Linked DNA regions of Homo sapiens: regions 1 and 2 are each linked to region 3. Evidence: fine-mapped expression QTL. A gene starts in region 3. Each other region holds a variant in brackets. All regions are shown on one strand. Distances are between the middles of the regions. Region 1 overlaps LOC105375567 (a long non-coding RNA gene). Region 2 holds the start of AOC1 (amine oxidase copper containing 1). Region 3 holds the start of TMEM176A (transmembrane protein 176A).

What was found. PIP is the estimated chance that this variant, and not a neighbour inherited with it, causes the effect.
Region 1: its variant is fine-mapped to the expression of TMEM176A in left ventricle (GTEx, PIP above 0.99).
Region 2: its variant is fine-mapped to the expression of TMEM176A in atrial appendage (GTEx, PIP above 0.99).

The regions. Positions count from the first base shown.
Region 1 is chr7:150,830,700-150,836,384 of GRCh38, reverse strand. The region is part of intron 2 of LOC105375567 (a long non-coding RNA gene); the gene reads left to right. LOC124901775 (a long non-coding RNA gene) reads right to left here. Exons shown (of 3, transcript XR_007060591.1): 3 at 3,284-3,414. Among named protein-coding and RNA genes, the nearest start is that of AOC1, 19 kb to the left of the region's middle. The variant G/T (reference allele first, on the strand shown) is at 2,692.
Region 2 is chr7:150,847,812-150,854,227 of GRCh38, reverse strand. It overlaps AOC1 (amine oxidase copper containing 1), which reads right to left and starts at 1,711. Exons shown (of 5, transcript NM_001091.4): 1 at 1,670-1,711. The region is part of intron 1 of LOC105375567 (a long non-coding RNA gene); the gene reads left to right. RefSeq lists an enhancer at 1,558-2,129. The variant C/T (reference allele first, on the strand shown) is at 2,718.
Region 3 is chr7:150,797,503-150,803,918 of GRCh38, reverse strand. It overlaps TMEM176A (transmembrane protein 176A), which reads right to left and starts at 3,150. Exons shown (of 7, transcript NM_018487.3): 1 at 3,091-3,150; 2 at 2,195-2,383; 3 at 1,594-1,704; 4 at 463-519; 5 at 87-299. The coding sequence starts at 2,368. It overlaps TMEM176B (transmembrane protein 176B), which reads left to right and starts at 3,555. Exons shown (of 7, transcript NM_001101312.2): 1 at 3,555-3,621. RefSeq lists enhancers at 2,459-3,158, 3,159-3,858, 3,859-4,558.

The sequences.
Region 1 (5,685 bases), 33 kb before region 3:
TGGTGTTGGCTTAGGAGATTTGTGAGCACTCAGGGTAGAAAGGCCTCTGCCACGGGGCTCCAAAACTTTCCACAGAAGCAGGGTCTTGGCTAGGCTGTGCCTCTGGGTTATTAGGTCAGCTCATCCCACTTAGGTTCCTGTGCCACCAATGTCTCCCTGAGTTTCACTGATCCCTGGGCTTTTCTGTTGCTCTGGGAATGGGCCATGATGCTGCTTCTCCTGGTTTTTCCTGTCTGTGACTGATGTGGGCACAGGATGCCCAGAGGCGTGAACTCCACAACATTCCTGGGTCTCACAAGCATCCAACTGCCTGCTTTGTCCTGAGTCCTTCACTGTGTCCCTGTTCTATAAAGGTTTTGTTTTCTAAGGGAGGCAGCCACAGCCTGGAAGCCCTTCTCCGGATTTCACTGCCTGGGAGGTGCTGACTGAAGGGAGTCATGCAGATCCTAAGGAACCTCAGTGGAGGCCCCGTGGAGCCCCTGCAAAGCCCCCAAAGACCCATGCCCTGGACCAGAGCCATTGTGGGGTGTTCTCCCCGCTGGCTGCATGTTGGAATCACCCAGGCAGTGTTCCTAACTATTGGTGCCCAGAGGTCCCACCTCCGGATTCTGATTTAGATAGGGGGGCCTGGGTTTGTAGGGGGTGGGGTTAAAAGCTCCCCAGTTGATTCCGAGGTGCAGGCAAGACTCAGAGCCATTCATGGAGCAGCTCCATTGATAAAAAAGAACTCAATGCAGGCACTGATGGTGCTCAGAGAAATCTGCTTTGCTTTTTTTTTTTTCATCTTTTTTTTTTTTTTACTTGACATAACTTGTATGTTTTTCTTGGGTGAAACATGATGTTTTGATATACATATACATTGTAGAGTGGTTAAATTTAGCTAATTAACAAATGCATTACTTCATATAAGTTATCGCTCTTGTGGTAAGAGCACTTAATGTCCATTTTCTACATTTTTCAAGAAGAGAATATATTGTCATTAACTATAATCACCTTGCTATACAACAGATCTCTTGAAATTTATTCCTCCTAACTAGCTGTAATTATGTATCCTTTGACCAACATCTCCCCATCTCCCCACTCCTTTCTAACCAGCCTAGCTTCTACTTCTTTGAGTTCAGGTTTTTTTAGATTCCACATGAATCTTGATGAGTGAGATCATGCGGTATTTATCTTTCTGTGCCTGGCTTATTTCACTTACAGAATGTCCTCCAAGTTCATCCTGTTATCACAAATGGCAGATTTCATTCTTTTTTATGGATAAGTGGTATTCCATGTGTATATATACAACTCATTTTTTTAAATCCATTTGTCCTTTGATGGACATTTAGGTTGATACCATATTTTGGTTATTGTGCATAGTGCTGTAATAAACATGGGAGTGCAGATATCTCTTCAACATACTGATTTCAATTCCTTTGAATATATACCCAGTAGTGGGGTTGCTGGATCATATTGTAGTTCTGTTTTTAATTTTTTGAGGAACCTCTATACTGTTTTCCATAATGGCTGTACTAATTTGCATTCCCAGCAACAATATATAAATGTTCCCTTTTCTCCACAGCTTTGATGGCAAGTGTTATCTTTTGTCTTTTTGATAATAGCCATAATAATGAGGTGATATCTCCTTGTGGTTTTTTATTTGCATTTTCCTGATGATTAGTGATGTTGAGCTTTTCTTCATACACCTGTTGGCCATTTGTCTGTCTTCTTTTGCAAAATGTCTACTCAAGTCTTTTGCCAATTTTTCACTGGGTTATTATTATTATTATTATTATTATTATTATTATTTTGCTATTGAGTTGTTTGGTTTCCTTATATATTTTGGATATTAACTGCTTGTCAGATGTATAGTTTGCAAATATTTTCTCCCACTATTTAGGTTGTCTTTTTTGCTCTGTTGGTTGTTTCCTTTGTTGTGCAGAAGCTTTTTAGTAAATTTTTAGAAATTTGATGTAATTTCATTTGGCTCTTTTTGCTTTTGTTATCCATGCTTTTAACGTTTTATAAAAAAATTATTGCCCAGACCAGTGTCGTGGAGTTTTCCCCCTATGTCTTCTTCTAGTAGTTTAATAGTTTTGGGTCTTGGATTTAAGTCTTTAATCTATTTTGAGTTGAACATGGTGAGATATAAGGGGGTAATTTCATTTTTCTGTTTGTGGATATCCAGTTTTTCTAACACCATTCTATTGAAGCAATTGTCCTTTTTCCACTGTGCTATCTTCGCACTGCTGTTGAAAATCAGGTGGCTATGAAGGTGTAGATTTATTTCTGGGCTCTCTATCCTGTTCCATTGGTTTATGCATCTGTTTTTATGCCAGTACCACGCTGTTTTAGTTACTATTGCTTTGTATTATACTTTGAGGTCAGGAAGTTTGATGCCTCTAGCTTTGTTCTTTTTGCTTATTTCAGCTTTTTGGGTTTCTTTTTTGTGTGTGTTTCCATACAAATTCCAGGAATACTTTTGTTATTTCTGCGAAGAATGTCATTGGTGTTGTGATATGCCTTACTTTTAAAAGTTAAACAGCAAATTCTCATTAAGTTCAATTTTTTTTTCATTTTAAAAATACTTGGTTCTAAGGAGCTGAAATTTCCACTCATTACTCTTGTTGATGGAGCAGCCTGGTCAGGATCAAGTATCACCAGCACCTAGTGAGGCGCTGTCATGGGCTGAACTGTGTCCCCCAAAAT[G/T]CATATGTTGAAGTCGTACCCCTAGTACCTCAGAATGTGACTATATTTGGAAATAGGGTCTATAAAGAAGTAATTAAGTTAAGATGAGGTCATTAGATGAGTCTTAATCCAATATGTCTGGTGTCTTTATGAGAAGAGGTAATTGGAACACAAACACACACAGAGGGATGACCATGTGATGAGGAGAACACAGGCAGAACACAGACATCCGTGAGCCTAGGAGAGGTCTCAGAGGGAACCAACCTTGCAGATGCCTTGGGCTCAGGCTTCCAGCGTCCAGAACTGTGATAAATAAATGTGTGCGTTTCAGCCTCCCAGTTGTGGTACTTTGCTATGGCAGCTCTAGCAAACAAATATGGGCACCAACCAAACAACCAACTATCATAGTCACATGGAATCAAGGCTCAGGTGAAAGGACCTGACAGGGATCTAGGAGGAAGGGGAAGGGGGAGCAGGTAGGTCTTCACTTGAATCTCTGCACCTCCCTACCACACTGCCCAGTCCAGTGCCTGGGCTTTGGGTTGTAATTCACCATCTCATTTGCTGCCTTTGCTGCCTCTGAGAGTTGAGCTAAGCAAACACTTAACTAGGCAGGATGAGCAGGTGAAGGATGAGGGTCTACATGACCACCCAGTCTGGACTCTTGGGACCTTCCCAGTTGGCAGGTTCAGGAGTTTTCTTCAATATAGCTTTTCCTTCAGTCCACCTTGGTCACATTGAAGCCTGTAAAAAACTAGTCCTGTGGCTGGGCGTGGTGGCTCATGCCTGTAATCCTAGCACTTTGGGAGACTGAGGCAGGCGGATCACGAGGTCAGGAGTTCCAGACCAGACTGCTAACATGATGAAACCCTGTCTCTACTAAAAATACAAAAATTAGCCGGGCGTGGTGGTGCGTGCCTGTAATCCAGCTACTCAGGAGGCTGAGGCAGGAGAATTACTTGAACCCGGGAGGATGATGTGGCAGTGAGCCAAGATTGAGCCACTGCACTCCGGCCTGGGTGACAGAGCGAGACTCCATTTCAAAAACAAAACAAAACAAACAAACAAACAACTAGGCTTGTTGGACCAAGAAATCTAATTATTGGTGTTTTTCCACTTGTGGGAAAAATGTGCCTAATGCATTTGTATGTCAGTCTACTTATTTGTTTATCTATCTATCACTAGTGAAAAGATCACACAAAAATATTAACAGTGGTTATCTCTGGGGTGTGAAATTATGGGTAATTTTTGTCTTTTTGTTATACTTTTCCATTTTTCCCAGCTTTCTCCAATGGGCATGTATTTATTTTTATAATCATAAAAAAGCAATAAAAAAGTCTATAACCAAAATATAGTGTTCGAGAAGCTCAAGTTCTTGATGAATAGTGTACTCTGAAAAAAGGCATATAATATATGGCAAAGACAAGGAGAAATTCCATCAAAATATTCTTCTTCGTTGTTGCTGGATTGTTAACCTCTTTAGGCTCCAGATTAGCTCAGAATGAGAACATTTAGCAATCTCAAGGTCTATGTTGGAGCCAGTTTCACAGTGAAGCAAAGCCCCTACCCCAGGGCACAGCAAAGTCTTTGTGCTGAGAGGAAAACAATGGCACATATGTCCCAGAGAAAGAGGCAGCTCATAATTCTTTTCCCTGGCAGCCTATTAAAGCTTCTCAGACATTGGACTAAATTCTGTCCTTCCTCCAAGAAGAAGTGGACTTCTGTGTCCTTGAATAAAACTCAAAATAAGTTATGGATATAAGCCAGCAGCTCTTCTCATGGATTGCAGAGCCAAGAGTCACTACTTGTCTGTCCTCCACATTCAGGTCAGTTTTCAGAAAAAGGAGATTTCTCACTCCAACGAGAATGCAAAGAATCCAAGGCGGCCATTGTGTCATTATTTAACAAGTTCCTTCATCCATTTATGCCCCAGTTGAATCAGATGCAGATTCTGTGCCCGGCACTGTGCTAAGTGCTTCACGTGTATATTTTATTCACTCCTCACAATGACCCTGTGAGGGTCATCAGATTACATATGAAGAAGTGAGAACCGGCTGGGCGCGGTGGCTCACGCCTGTAATCCCAGCACTTTGGGAGGCCGAGGCAGGCAGATCAGGAGGTCAGGAGATCAAGACCATCCTGGCTAATATGGTGAAACCCTGTCTCTACTAAAAACACAAAAAAACTAGCCGAGCATGGTGGCGGGCGCCTGTAGTCCCAGCTACTCGGGAGGCTGAGGCAGGAGAATGGCGTGAACCCGGGGGTGGAGCCTGCAGTGAGCCGAGACTGTGCCACTGCACTCCATCCTGGGCAACAGAGTGAGAATCCATCTCAAAAAGAAAAAAAAAAAAAAAAGAAATGAGAACCAAGATCTCAACCCACCCTGGCAGTGCTTTCAGAGCTGCACAGCCCTACCACACTATACTGCCCTTGCTGTGCAGACACAGATATGAAATGCCCTGGCTGTGCCCTGGGGGGCATGAACTAGAGTGAGTAGAGTCAGATGTCCTCAAGTAAGGGTCAAGTAAACAAGTAAGGGTCATAAAAGGGCCAGGTGCAGAGAGCGAGGTATGTACAGGGCATGGAGGAGGGAGTGGTCCAGTCACCCAGGGTGGGGCAGTGGTTTGGGAAATGTTTCCCAGAGCAGGTGGCCTTTGTACTGGGTATAATGAGGCTGACAAGGGTGACTGATTCTTTGTGAGGGGAACAGATGCTAGTGGTGAGGTTATTACAGGCCAAAGGAGCAACCTCAGCAGCAGGTTGGGAAGCACAAAGATTGACCCCCACTCTCAGCATTGGACATATATCATCTAGGCAGAAAGTCAACAAAGAGACATTAGATTTAAACTGCACTATAGACAAAGGGACCTAACAATTTGCAGAACATTCTATCCAACAACTACAGAATATACATTCTTCTCATCAGCACGTGGTACATTCTCCAGGATAGACCACATGTTAGGCTTCAAAATAAGCCTCAACAAATTTCCCAAAATCATATCAATTATCTTCTTA
Region 2 (6,416 bases), 50 kb before region 3:
CCTCTGGTGCTGGCAGAAGACCCTGGAACCCACATGATCTTGGGCTCTCGGAGGCCCTGCTTACCTGGAGGGAGCAGGTGAGGCAGGGGCTGCAGGCGGAACCCAGAGCCAGCAGGAAGGATATGAGGTGAGTTCTTGTGTTCTCCTATTAAATATTGGCCAGGCCTCTTTTTTTTCTTCTTTAAATAGACTATTTTTTCTTTTTCCTGAGACAGTCTTGCTCTGTAGCCCAGGCTGGAGTGCAGTGATGCGATCTTGGCTCACTGCTACCTCTGCCTCCCAGGTTCAAGCAATTCTCCTGCCTCAGCCTCTGGAATAGTTGGGATTACAGGTGTGCACCACCATGCCCGGCTAATTTTTTGTTTTTAGTAGAGATGGTGTTTCACCGTGTTGGTCAGGCTGGTCTTGAATTCCTGACCTCAAGTGGTCCACCTGCCTCAGCCTCCCAAAGTGCTGGGATTACAGGCATGAGCCACCAGGCCTGGCCCCAAATAGACTTCTTATTAGACTTAAATAAATAAATAAATAAATATATATATATATATATATATATATATATATATATAGTCAGGATCTCACTATGTTGCCCAGGCTGGTCTTGAACTCCTGGGCTCAAGTGATCCTCCTGCGTTGGCCTCCCAAAGTGCTGGGATTATAGTAGACTTTTTTTTTAATAGACTTTTAAAAATAGACTTTAATAGATTTCTTAATAGACTTTATAAAGTCTGTTAAAAGTCTTTAAAAAGTCTATTAAAAGTCTTTTAACAAACTTTATAAAGTCTATTAAAGTCTTTTAAATAGGAGTCTTTTAAAGAGGAATTTTAGGTTCATAGCAAAATTGAGCGAAAGGTACTGAGAGTTTCTGTATACTCACAGCCCCTACACACGCAGCCTCCCCACTATCAATATCCACACCAGAGCCATACATTTGTGGCTGATGAACCTGCACATCACTCTCACCCAGAGCCCACAGTTTACATCAGGACTCACTCTTGCTGCTGCATATTCTATGGGTTGGACAAACGGACAATGACATGGATCCACCATTAGAATATCACACAGAATAGTTCCACCTCCCCCAAAATCTTCTGTGCTCCACCTCTTCCTCCGAAACCCTAGCAATCACTGCTCTTTTTATTGTCTCCATAGTTTTGCCTTTTCCAGAACGTCCTGTATTTGGAATCTTACAGTCTGCAGCCTTTTCAGATTGGCTTCTTTTGCTTGGCAGTGTGCATTTAGGGTACCTCCATGTCCTTTCACGGCTGGGTCTCCTTTTTTACAACCTCTTATACCCACGTTTCTTTTTGCTTTTCCAGGAAGGAGAAAGATGTGGAAGAGACCTTTGCTTTCCCCAGGACAAACCTCTGTCCCCATGTGCAGTGGCAGTGGGGGTGGTGGCTGGTGAGACCTCCAGGCAGGAACAGGAAGCAAGCCCTCTCCCTGCTCACCCTCCTCTCTGAGCTTTCCCCACTCCACCCTGGCCGGCTGTTGCCTGCCACCAAGCACCCGGGCACCTTCTGTGATGTGCTGGGCTCCCGCCCTCACTTCCTGGCCCTCCTCCCTCTGTGTCCTGTTTCTTCTGCCCCTCACTCTGTGCCCTCCTTCCACTGCTTTTCTGTCCTCCAGGTCAGCCCCTTCTTGACTCTCCCGAATACCCATCAGAACGCACCTGTGTGCTCTGCTCCCAGTTCGCTCTGCTTCCAGCCTTTGCCCTTAAGCTGATCTCTGACTCCTTCTTGAAGTCAATCAGACCCCGCCCTGCAGGGAGGGACAAGGTGAGGCCTGAGCTGGCCTAGGAGGGGCCTATGGCTTGGGAGGTGCCTCTGTGGGCAGCTACAGTGGCGAGAGTGGGTTTGAGGAAGCTGGCTGTGCAGCACACTTGTCCTGAGTCTGTTTCCAGACAAGTGCCGCCTTCCACAAGAATTTGCCTTGGCTTCTCTGTGACGAGCCATGCAATGCCACGATCTGTTAATTTAGGTGGCATATTTTAGAGGCAGAGATAAGGACAAGGGGCCATTTCCTAGCCGGTAGTCTTACCTGAAGCTGACAGATGGACCAGGGCAGGGGCTGATAGAGGCTGGCACCCACAGCAAAACAGAGAATTCAACCGCTCCTAGAACAAGACACCAGAGGCAGAACCGTTTGGGAGGAGCAGCCACTCAAGACGAGTTGCAAACTTTGGCGGCTTTTTAACGATCTTTGAGACCCTGACCAGATTCAGAAAGGAGGAAGGACTTGGCTGGGAGAAAGCTGGCCAGGGTAGCTAAGGCTATGGCACAGAGCGGAGAGGGGAGAGGACACTGGGGCAGGTAGTGCCCATGCAGTGGGCGGACAGTGCTAACGCCCACTTAGTCAGGTTGAGAAGGGCGAACGTGGTGACCGGGGTAACTCCTAGTTGGAAAGGAAAGAATAGAGTCAGGAAAAGTTCGTGGCTCAGGAGTGCCAAGGGGTCATCATCCCCCATTACCAAGGTTTGGTTGCTCAGGGATTGCACACCGCTTTGTGGTTATAGGGGTTTTGTATTTCTCATCATCATCCTTCCTGCTGCCCGCAATGCAAGCCATTTCAGTGTGCACTGGCAGCTAGATGAAGGAAGGTGAACACACTTAGTCAACTTGAAGCTTGCTTGCAATTCCAGAAGGTCTTTGGTGTTTCTGAGGAAGGGGATTTGCCTTCCATGTTAAAATGATGATTGATACAAAGACAATGAATGCTAA[C/T]GTCTTTCACCCTCAGTGTTCAAGAGGACTGTGAGTTATGTATTCTCAGTTATGGGCTCACCAACTCCGCAGAGAATTGGGGGGATTTGGATTAGAAGAGAGTTTCAGGAACAACCTGATTTTGAGGACTACAATCTGTTTCCATTCCACAAAGGAAACTGCGACAAAGTTAATGGAGTGAGGATGGATCGAGAAAAGAGACTTGCAAAGATTTAAAGGGAAAGGGGCCACATGCACATGATGGAGTTAGACCCTTTCACACACGGAAACGGACTCGAAAGGGACCAAAGACATACATGTAAGAGCTAAAACTGTAAAACTCTTAAAAAGAAAACATAGGAGTAAATCTGCTTGACTTTACATCTAATTCTTGGATGTGACCTCAAAGCACAAATAACCAAAGAAAAAAAAATAGATAAATTGACATCATCAGTATTAAAAGACTTTTATGCTTCAAAGGACACCCACAGGAAAATGAAAAGACAAAGCATAGAATGGGAGAAAATATTCACAGATTATATATCTGATAAGAAAATTATATCTAGAATGTAAGAAGAACTCTTCCAATTCCATAATAAGAGGCAAATAATCCAATTAAAAATGAGCCAAAGATCTGAATAGATATTCCCCTCACGAAGATACACAAATGGCCAATATGCACATGGAAAGCTGTTCAATGTCATTAGTCATCAGGGGATGCAAATCAAAACCACCAGGAGATACCACTTTATATCCACTAGGATGGCTAGAATTCAAAAGCAAGGTAATAACAGGTGGGGCCAGGAGGCAGAGAAACTGGAAGCCTCACAGGCAGTTCATGGTGAGATGACGCAGCCACTTCGGAAAACTGTCTGGCTGTTCCTCAAATGACTTAACGTTGTTATCATATAACCCAGCAATCCCACTCCTGGGTATATGCTCAAGAGAAAGGAAAGCCTATGTCCATGGGGAAACCTGTACCAGAGTGTTTACTGCAGTGTTATTCACAATAGCCAAACAGTGGAGACGACTCATATGTCTCTGCATTGATAAATGAGTCAACAAAATGTGGTCTATCCACTCAATGGAACATCATTCAGTCATAAAAAGGAAGGAATCACTGTTACATGACACAATGTGGATGAACCTTAAAACCACTACGGCAAATGAAAGAAGCCAGTCACAAAAGACCACATTATTCCATTTATATGAAACGTGTGGGGTAGGTAAATCTCTCAAGCAGATGAGAAGCACATTAGTGGTTGCTTAGGGCTGGGGTGCGATGGAGGGATGGGGTGAGAGCTAATGCTTATGGGGTTTCTTTTTGAGGTGATTAAAAAGTTCTAAAATTGAAGGTGATGGCTGCATGTACCTGTGAATGTACTAAAATGCATTGAATTATACACTTTAAATGGGTGAATTGTAAGGTGTGTCTCAATAAAGCTGTTTTCAAAAAGTGACAGGACTAATATCTAGAATACACAAGGAGCTCTTGCAAATCGGTCAGAAAGAGGCAGCAGTCCCCATGGAAACCTGGTAAAGAATCCCAAGGGTAACTTGCAGAAGAGGCACCCCAAAGGGCTAAAGAGCACATGGAAAGATGCTCAAATGTAGTGGTTACTAGAAAAATGCAAAGCATTCAACAACGAGATATAATTTTTCATGGGAAAGCTGGATGATGCCAAGTGTTGACAGAGATGTGGGGAAACGGGGACCTTATGTGTGGTTGTGGGAAGGGGTTATTGATGGCACAGCCATTCTGGAGGGCACTTTGCAGGGTGTGGGCAAATGAGAGAATTGCATGCTCTCCAGACTCAGGAACTCTGTCTCTTGGAATATATGTCAAAGAGGTTCTCACCCAGGCCTAGAGGTGGGATGCAGACACAAGTGGCTGTGAGGCTGGGGAGCTGGAGGCCATCGGGGTGCCACCCCCAGGAGAGTGGTCACTGCACACCATGGGGTGTTGTGCAGTTGGCGGGTGCAAAGGCATGGATGTCCACACAGCCACTCCTGAGAAGGGATCTCAGGATCATGGAAGACGCAGGATGAGTGATAGCACGATGCCATTACACAACAGGAAACACGTACACACCAAGCCACCCGCTTTCAAGAGTGGATACACATTAGAATGGATGTGAGGGCGGGGGTGGGAGTGGGAATACATACATACACACGTGAGAAAGACAAGAGAGAGGACTTGTATGGGCCAGTGATGACGACATCCATGCACTGAGGTAGAATTAATTCAGTTCTGCAATGGACGTCCATAAATAAATAAAAGAAAGGCCTGGGAGACAGACTGAGTGACTACAGGTCCTCACACCAGGGTAGATGTGGCTGAGGACAGGAACCACCACAGGTCCCGCACCTGGAGGATGCAGTGAGGGCAGGGAGGAACACTGCGTGTAGGCAGGGAGCTGAAGCACACCAGAAAGAATTGCATTTTTTATGTAACGGGGCCCATAACATGTACATAGAAGGATTAATATTACAAGGTGGCACAGAGTAAGTGCAACACATTGATGCCCAAGGGCCTGTCCTGCAAGGGCTTGGAAGGAGATTCCCCTCAAGACTGCAAGCCCCCAAGTCCTGGGACTCTATCCCCTCTGCAGTAGCCTCCATGGCTGCTGTCACAGAGGACCACACACAGGGGCTTAAAGTAACAGAAATGGGTTGTCTCACAGTTCTGGAGGCCTAAAGTGTGAAATCAAGGTGTAGGCAGGGCCATGCTCCCTTTGGAGGCTCAAGAAGAGGGTCCTTCCTCTCCTCTTCCAGCTTCTGTGTTGCCAGCAATCCTTGGTGTCCCTCAGTGCCTTGGCTTGTGGCCATGTCACTCCAATCTCTGTCCTCACATGGCGTCCTCCTTGTCTCAGTACCTCTATTTTCAAGAACACCAGTGATTGTATTGAGGGCCTACCCTACTCCAGTATGACATCATCCTAACTAATTCATCTGCAACGACCCTATTTCCAAATAAGACCATATTCTGAGGTTCCAGGGAGGACATGAATTTTTAGGGGGATGCTATGCAACCCAGCACACCTTCTTTACCTGCCTCATTGCAGAGAGCATGGTCCTTGGCCAGTGAGTGAATTCCAAGCCCTGTGCCCTGGGGGGCTGCTGCCCCGAGGATCCACAAGGTAGAGCCTGTGTGGGGTTTTGCGATACACGAGGGACTTAGGAGGAAGAGGACACACTGGGCAGGGGCGGGGGTGGGAGTGGGAGTGTGAGTGGGGGTAGGAGCAGAGTCCTGAACTGAGATGTGGTGTGTTTCCCAACATGGGAAAAGGTCAGGGCTGATGCGGGGAGTGGGGTGCGGTTTGTGTCGCTGTGCTGAGGAAGGGCAGGTGGTGTGTCTGGAAGGAGGAGGTAGAGTGAGGAACCTCCCTATGCGCTTCTAGAGAAGTGTGGGGGTGAAGAGGGGCTTGTGGGAATCCTATAGAGACAGAGGAGATAGAGAAGCCCTCTAGAGAGGCACTGGGAAAGCTGAGGCGAACAGAATCCTTGTGCAGAAAAGCTGGTAAGTCTGTTGTTATATACATATATATATTTGTAGAGACGGGGTCATGCTGTGTTGCCCACGCTGGTCTTGAACTCCTGGCCTCAAGTGATCCTCCTGCCTTGGCCTCCCAGAGTGCCGGGATTACAGGCATGAGTGACCATGTCTGGCCAAGGCCATTGTTTCTGCTCATGTTTGTGTGCACTGTGGCTGGGGAACTT
Region 3 (6,416 bases):
TCTGGTGGAGAACCTGACTCTTGCCCCTGGCCTGGCCTGGCCATCCCTGCCCCACCTGCTGCTGCCCCTTCCCCTTGGCCACCTACCTTCAGCATGTCCATGAAGGAGGTACATAGGTGTAGCCTTCTGACTTCTTCTGGACTCTGAGTGGGGGCTGGAGTGTTCCAGTCACTCGAGCTGGAGATGCGGCAGGCACTGTTGTAATAAGAGTAGCCATATCGGAAATCTTCATTCCAAAGTTTGAGGGCAGCGATGGCTGTGGAGAAAGCTGCCAGCGTTAGCAGAGTCCTCAGCAGGGCCTGGGGAGGGAGGAGGCAGAGAGAAATCTTTGTGTTTCAGTCTCTCTCAGAGTCCAGTCGGGGGAAAAAAGGGCAAGGCCCAGAGAAGCCTGCAACAGGGCAGGAGATTGGGGTGACCTCCAGCCTGAACCTGGTCCCCTCCCATGCCCTTCCCTGAACTTACCCAGTATGTACCACCCCGTTTCTCGTAAATGAAGGCAGCAGCTCCAGCCAGCACAGCCTGGGGAGAGATTGAGCCAGGAGCAGGCTTAGTACAGGAAATGCAACTCCTCTCCCACGAGAGAGCCTCCATGCAGGCCCTTCCCCAGCACACAGCTTGGGCGGGAGGTTTCATGCTAAGCTTTATTATCCATGGTAAGATAATTGCTGAGAGGGTGGAGCCTGGATCCAACTCCTGAGGCTGCAAAAGGCCCTGCTTTAGTGACACCTAAGAGCTTGTGGTCAAGCCAGGTGTGAGCCCCTCTTCCCTTCTAAACCTTCCTTTTTAAACAACACCAAGTGCTTTATGAAAGTTCTAGGGATGGTGGGATCCTGTGGATAAAAGTCATGGGGTGCTGGAGAAGATCTCAATGAAGGGTGAGTCTATACAGAGTGGGCACTGTTAGGTCTAGAAGCCTGTCCTAACAGTGCCCAATAATCCACTCAGCTGGGCTTGAAGAACAGGAAATCTAGTATGTCCCAGTGGACAGGTGGACCTGAATCCTGTTTGGCTAATTCTGTAATTAAGCTGGGTATTTTGCCACAGGCTGGGTGAAGGTAATTACTCTCGGCTTCTGTCAGTAAATATGAGTGTTTTAGTGCTATTCTGAGAGTGTAGGTACCATGACCAGCCTACCCAGCTCCTGTGCAAACTGCACACACCCATCTGTTGACAACAATTCCTGGGTTTCCATTGTGTACAGGGCCTGTGGAGGACAATGAGAATAACCAGGGGGTGATGCTTCCTGGGGGACCACATACTATCTGGAACGCTCTGCCTTCCCCATCTCAATGCAAGTATCTGGAGATGAGCAGGTCCTTAGATCCTTAGTTGACATTAACTGTTGAAGGCAGGGAGAGGCAGCCAGCCTGGTGGGAACAGCACTGGGAAGGGTATGGGAGAGCAGACAGTGTGAATAGGACATGCCACCACCGCCCTCAGCTGTTTGCTCATCTGAACAGGCAGGGAATGGTCCTAGATAATCAGATCTCTCCGACTGCCAGCATTCTGTGGCGCCATGTTGGAGGAAGGCAATCAGGAGAGCAATGCCCCACCCCTCTCACAGGCAGTCAAGCACTGTCCTGCTCTACTCACCACAGCCCCTGTCCAGATGGCAGCTCCCGAGGTGACGAGGAGGGTGTAGTCGCGGATGTAGAAAAATCCTCCTAGGACTGCACTCAAGATCCCCAGCACGATCTGCATCACCTGAAAGACAAAGGACCCAAGATCCCGGCTCCTAGGTGGACCTGCCACTGCAGGGATTAACCGCTAAAACCCCAAAAAGAGAGGGAGAGGTAGAGAGAGAGAGAAAGAAAGAAGAGAAGAGAAGAGAAGAGAAGAGAAAAGGAGAAGAAAGAGGAGGAGAAGGAGAAAGAAGAAGAGGCAGGAGGAGGAGAAAAGAGAAGGGAAAGGAAGGAGAGGAGAGCCGGCCCATCCTGAGTTTGGCCCAGAGGAAAGGATGGACTCAGGGCTCCACTGATTGGGACTCTGCATGGTCAGTGGCTCCTCCACACCCCTTCAGCCCAGAGCCTCCCCTCCCCAGGCTCTTACTGAGAAGGCCAGAGAATCACATCGCTAAGTAAGAAGACATAACTGGCTCGGTGTCCTGTTCAGAGGGAGGCTGGCAGAGAGTGCTGCTGCGGCTGGAGGTGGGGAGTTCCTCCCGCCGCCCGACGAGGCAGGCCGTCACACTCACCCACGAGGCCACCAGCAGCCGGCTGCTGCCCCTGGCCTGGGTGGCCCGGGGCCGCAGCGCAGAGCAGCAGGTGAGCAGGAGCTTGGCCAGGGCAGACTCCTGGTGGATGTGCACATCGATGTGGGTGTGCTGTGGGGCCTCCGGGGCCATCTCATCACTGTCGGCTGTTCCCATTGTCAGGGACACAGTCTATGAGGAAGGGAGCACCAGAGAGGAACGGCTGTCAGAAGATTTTCGCAGATTTCATTGGAGTTGGGGAGGTCAGGGGCCAGTGGTGGCTCAAAGTCACCCAATGAATGGCTGTCCTGGTCACAGGGCCGCACCCCTGGCCCCTCACGAGGGGAATGTGTGTAGCAGAGGGGGTGCTGACCATGCTGGAACTGCGGCGACTACAGAGCCTGCGGGAACCTCCCCTTTCGCCCAAGATCTGCTCTGTCCCCCTCATCCTCCTCCCAGGGCCCTGGCGTCTGGGTCAAGCAGCGCCCCACACCTCGACCCCTCACCCCCTCCTCCCGGGCTCTTCCTGCGGCCTCCCCTCCACAGTCCGCAGGCTCTGGGACAGGACCGAGTCCTTGGCTGCCTGTGGAGCTCCTGTGCCAGCAGCTGCGCCCCGGCTGCGCTCCGGATACCCCCATCCCCGCCACCGCCGACCTCCCGCTCCACCGACTGCTGCTCACGCCCGACGGGTTCACGCCGCCCCTGCCCCGTGAAGGACCGCGCTGCGGTGCGGAGGTAGGTCAAAAGCCGGGGCCGCACCTGGCTTCCTCTGCAGTCCCCTTCCTGGAGTGTCATCCCTGGGTGGGGGTCCCTCCTACGCTCCTCCAACTGTGCGGAGGCAGCTCGGGGTGCGTGCGGAAGGAGGCCCGGGGGCCGCCGGGAGTGGGGTGCCGCCTCACCTGCGCTCCTCGGGACCTGCGAGCGGGCGGCGGGAGGGCTGGGGCGCTGGCTGGAGAAGTGGGTTGAGAGTTGGAGGGGGAGGCGGGGAGGGGAGGCGGGGGTGGGGCTGAACTTCAGCCCCTCGGGTTCATGACAGGCTGCAGGGCCTGGGGTCCGTCTGGGGTTCTCCTGCTGCGCGAGGGTCACTGGGCTCTGGGGAGCTGGGAGGGTCCGCGGGCGGACGGCCCTGGGAAAGCCCGTGGGGTCGTTCTCGCCTCCAGCCCCGCCCGGCCAGGGCCGGCGTGCAAGTGTGCGCGAGTGGGAGCGCAGGGGGCGCGCGGGGGCTCGGTCTTCTCCCGCCCGGTCCGCTCCTCCGGGCGGAACCCCCTTTGCCGGGCCCCCGGGCCGCAGCTGGTTTCGGGAAACCGCGCAGCCTGGGCGGGGCCGCAGCCCCCACCCGTGCATCTGCCGTCTCCGCCCTCCCGTCGCTCCCCTGCTCGGGGTCAGCTAGTGTCCGCTCTGCTCGGCCGCGGGCTCCCGGAGGACTGCAGGTGAGGCAGGGCCTCCGCGGCCCGGGAGACCCTCTTGCCGCAGGACCCTCTGTCACGAGGAGTCCCCAGGGCCATGCCCCCACCCCGTCCTGTCCACAGGACGTCTTTCTTCCTCCAACCTGGTTTCCAGGAGGACTCACGTAGGAGGGAGGGACAGCTGGGTGCAGGTGTTTCTCCCCAGAAAAACGGCTGGAGAGCGGGAGGAGAGGCCTGGGGCTGGCGCGTCCCGTCCACCTTCTGCCGCCTGCACGCCTGGACCCTGGCTGGAGCCCTACGGTGGGGTGGCTCCTGGGACGGGGCCAGGGAGCGGCGGGGCTGCCGGACGCTTTCCCCAGCCCCGGGGCACGGGAAGAGCTGGACAGAGGAAAGTGTTCGGGGCAGCCGGGAAGAGCCCACCACCTACCAGGCGTCGGGCGGCCCGCAGGGGAATCTCCGTGGTGCCGGCCTGGTTCAGATCCGACTCTTCAGGCGGGGGCGAGGCAGATCTAGGGGTTGGCGTGGGGCGGGGGAAGCGGTGGTCCTGGGGGCCCGGAGGTAGCTGGAACCCGAGGTGCCCTCAGGGCGAGGCCTGGGCCGTCAAGGGAAGGTCTGGCTGGAATCTGGGGCTGGGCTGGAAGCAGTCTGAAGCTCCTTTGTACGTGTGCGGAATTGTCTAACTCCTGTCCTTTCTAACCCCAAGGAGGCCAGGTGGGTGAAAGAGTGAAACTGCTTTGAAAAGTAGGTAGAGTACGAATGGGAGGTGTTATTAGAATTGTTAATAATATTTGATTTAAACTGTGATACTTAGCCAGGATGTCCATTAGAATTGCCTATGCAGGATTTATTTTAGAGCCAGGCAAGCTGATTCTAAAGTGCATGTGAAGAAGTAGTCTAGCAAAAATGGCCATGACAATTCTGAAAGAAAAACCACACGAGGGGATCATGAAACAGCCCAATTAGCATTAAGCTCCATGTTAAAATTGTGGTAATGATGCCTAGCCCATGAGACATGCCAATGGGCAGAATATAAGGACTAGAATAGGCCTACATTCCTAGGGGAACTTCATTTCTGCTCAGGAGAGAATTTTAAATCACTGAGAAAAAGAGGATGTATTTTCCGCAAATGGAACGTATCTTTCAGAAGTTAAACATCTGAATGACAGCAACAGAACTTGGATCCGTGTCTCCCAACGGCGAAGGTTGGTCACCCAGCTCCCAAATTCCAGATGGTCGGCATTTAAAAGTGAAAACTGAAAGCATAAAGGCACTTAGAAGAAAATGTGGAAGATTATTTTATAATCTCGAAACGGGGAAGTCCTTTAAAAGTGTAAGAGCTAGACACCATAAATAGAATGAAATAGAACATGGATTGTATGAATATACAAGCAAGGTCAAAAAATAAACTTCAAATTGTAAAGAAACATTTGAAACTCATATCACAAACGGTAATTTTGTGAATAGATAAAGAACTTCCATAGAAAAAAGCAAAACAAAACAAAACGAAACAAGGACATAGGATGTGAACGGAGAGCTCACAAAAGAAGAAATAAAAATGGCCCTGAACATATGAAAAGACAACCAACCTCACTCATAATAAGAGAACTATGGGCCAGGCGTGGTGGCTCACACCTGTAATTGCAGCACTTTGGGAGGCTGAGGTGGGAGGATTGCTTGAGTCCAGGAGTTTGAGACCACCCTGGGCAACAAAGCAACACCCCATCTCTCTCTCTAAAAAAAGAGAACTGGCCGGGCGCGGTGGCTCACGCCTGTAATCTCAGCACTTTGGGAGGCCGAGGCGGGCGGATCATGAGGTCAGGAGATCGAGACCATCCTGGCTAACACGGTGAAACCCCGTCTCTACTAAAAATACAAAAAATTAGCTGGGCTTGATGGCGGGCGCCTGTAGTTACTCGGGAGGCTGAGGCAGGAGAATGGCGTGAACCCGGGAGGTGGAGCTGGCAGTGAGCCGAGATCGCGCCACCCTAGCCTGGGCGACAGAGCGAGACTCCATCTCAAAAAATGAATAAATAAATAAATACATAATAAAAAAATGAAATAAAAGAAAACCATGGATTAAAAATATATGGAAATCATTACAGAAAGCAGGTCAGTGGTTGCTCATGGCCAGTGGTTGGGGGTATTTTCTGGGGAGGGGCTTTAGGGAATGTATTGCTGTGTAGGAATGTCCTTTATCTTGATTGTAGCTGTAATTGCACAAATGTGTAAATTTGTCAAAACTCGTTGAGATATACATTTAAAATGGGACATTTTTATTACATAAAATTGATTAAAATCAATGCATTTTTCCCCATATAAAAGGAAAAAGATAAAAGAGTTTGCCTCCTGCATGTGAATTGCTACCACCTCCGTGGAGGATAACTGACAATATCTACTAAAATTGCAAATGCGCATTCCTGGTGCCCTGCCAATTCCACATTGTCTGTAATGGAAAAGGATTAGAAATAACCTAAATGTCTGCCAATAGGGAACCACTTAAATAAATTATGAGGAATTCATACTCTCAAAATATATGCAGTTACACAAATGAGTGAAGAAGCTTTTGTGAAAGTTGTCAGAATCATAATCGAGTCACTTGAGTTAAAAAAAAAATCTGAAAATGGAAGGCCCACAAGGCAGGGTTCTCATGCGTAAATAACCTGGGAACAAAAGTCATCACAAAGGACTCTGTAAAATGACAACCTTACACAAAAAAATACTTCTGTGAGGACATCCACCAGCAACTGCCTGTCTAACCCTGGACTTGTGTCACCCTTGTTATTGATCCTTGTAGCCAAGGATGATCACCTCAAAGAGAT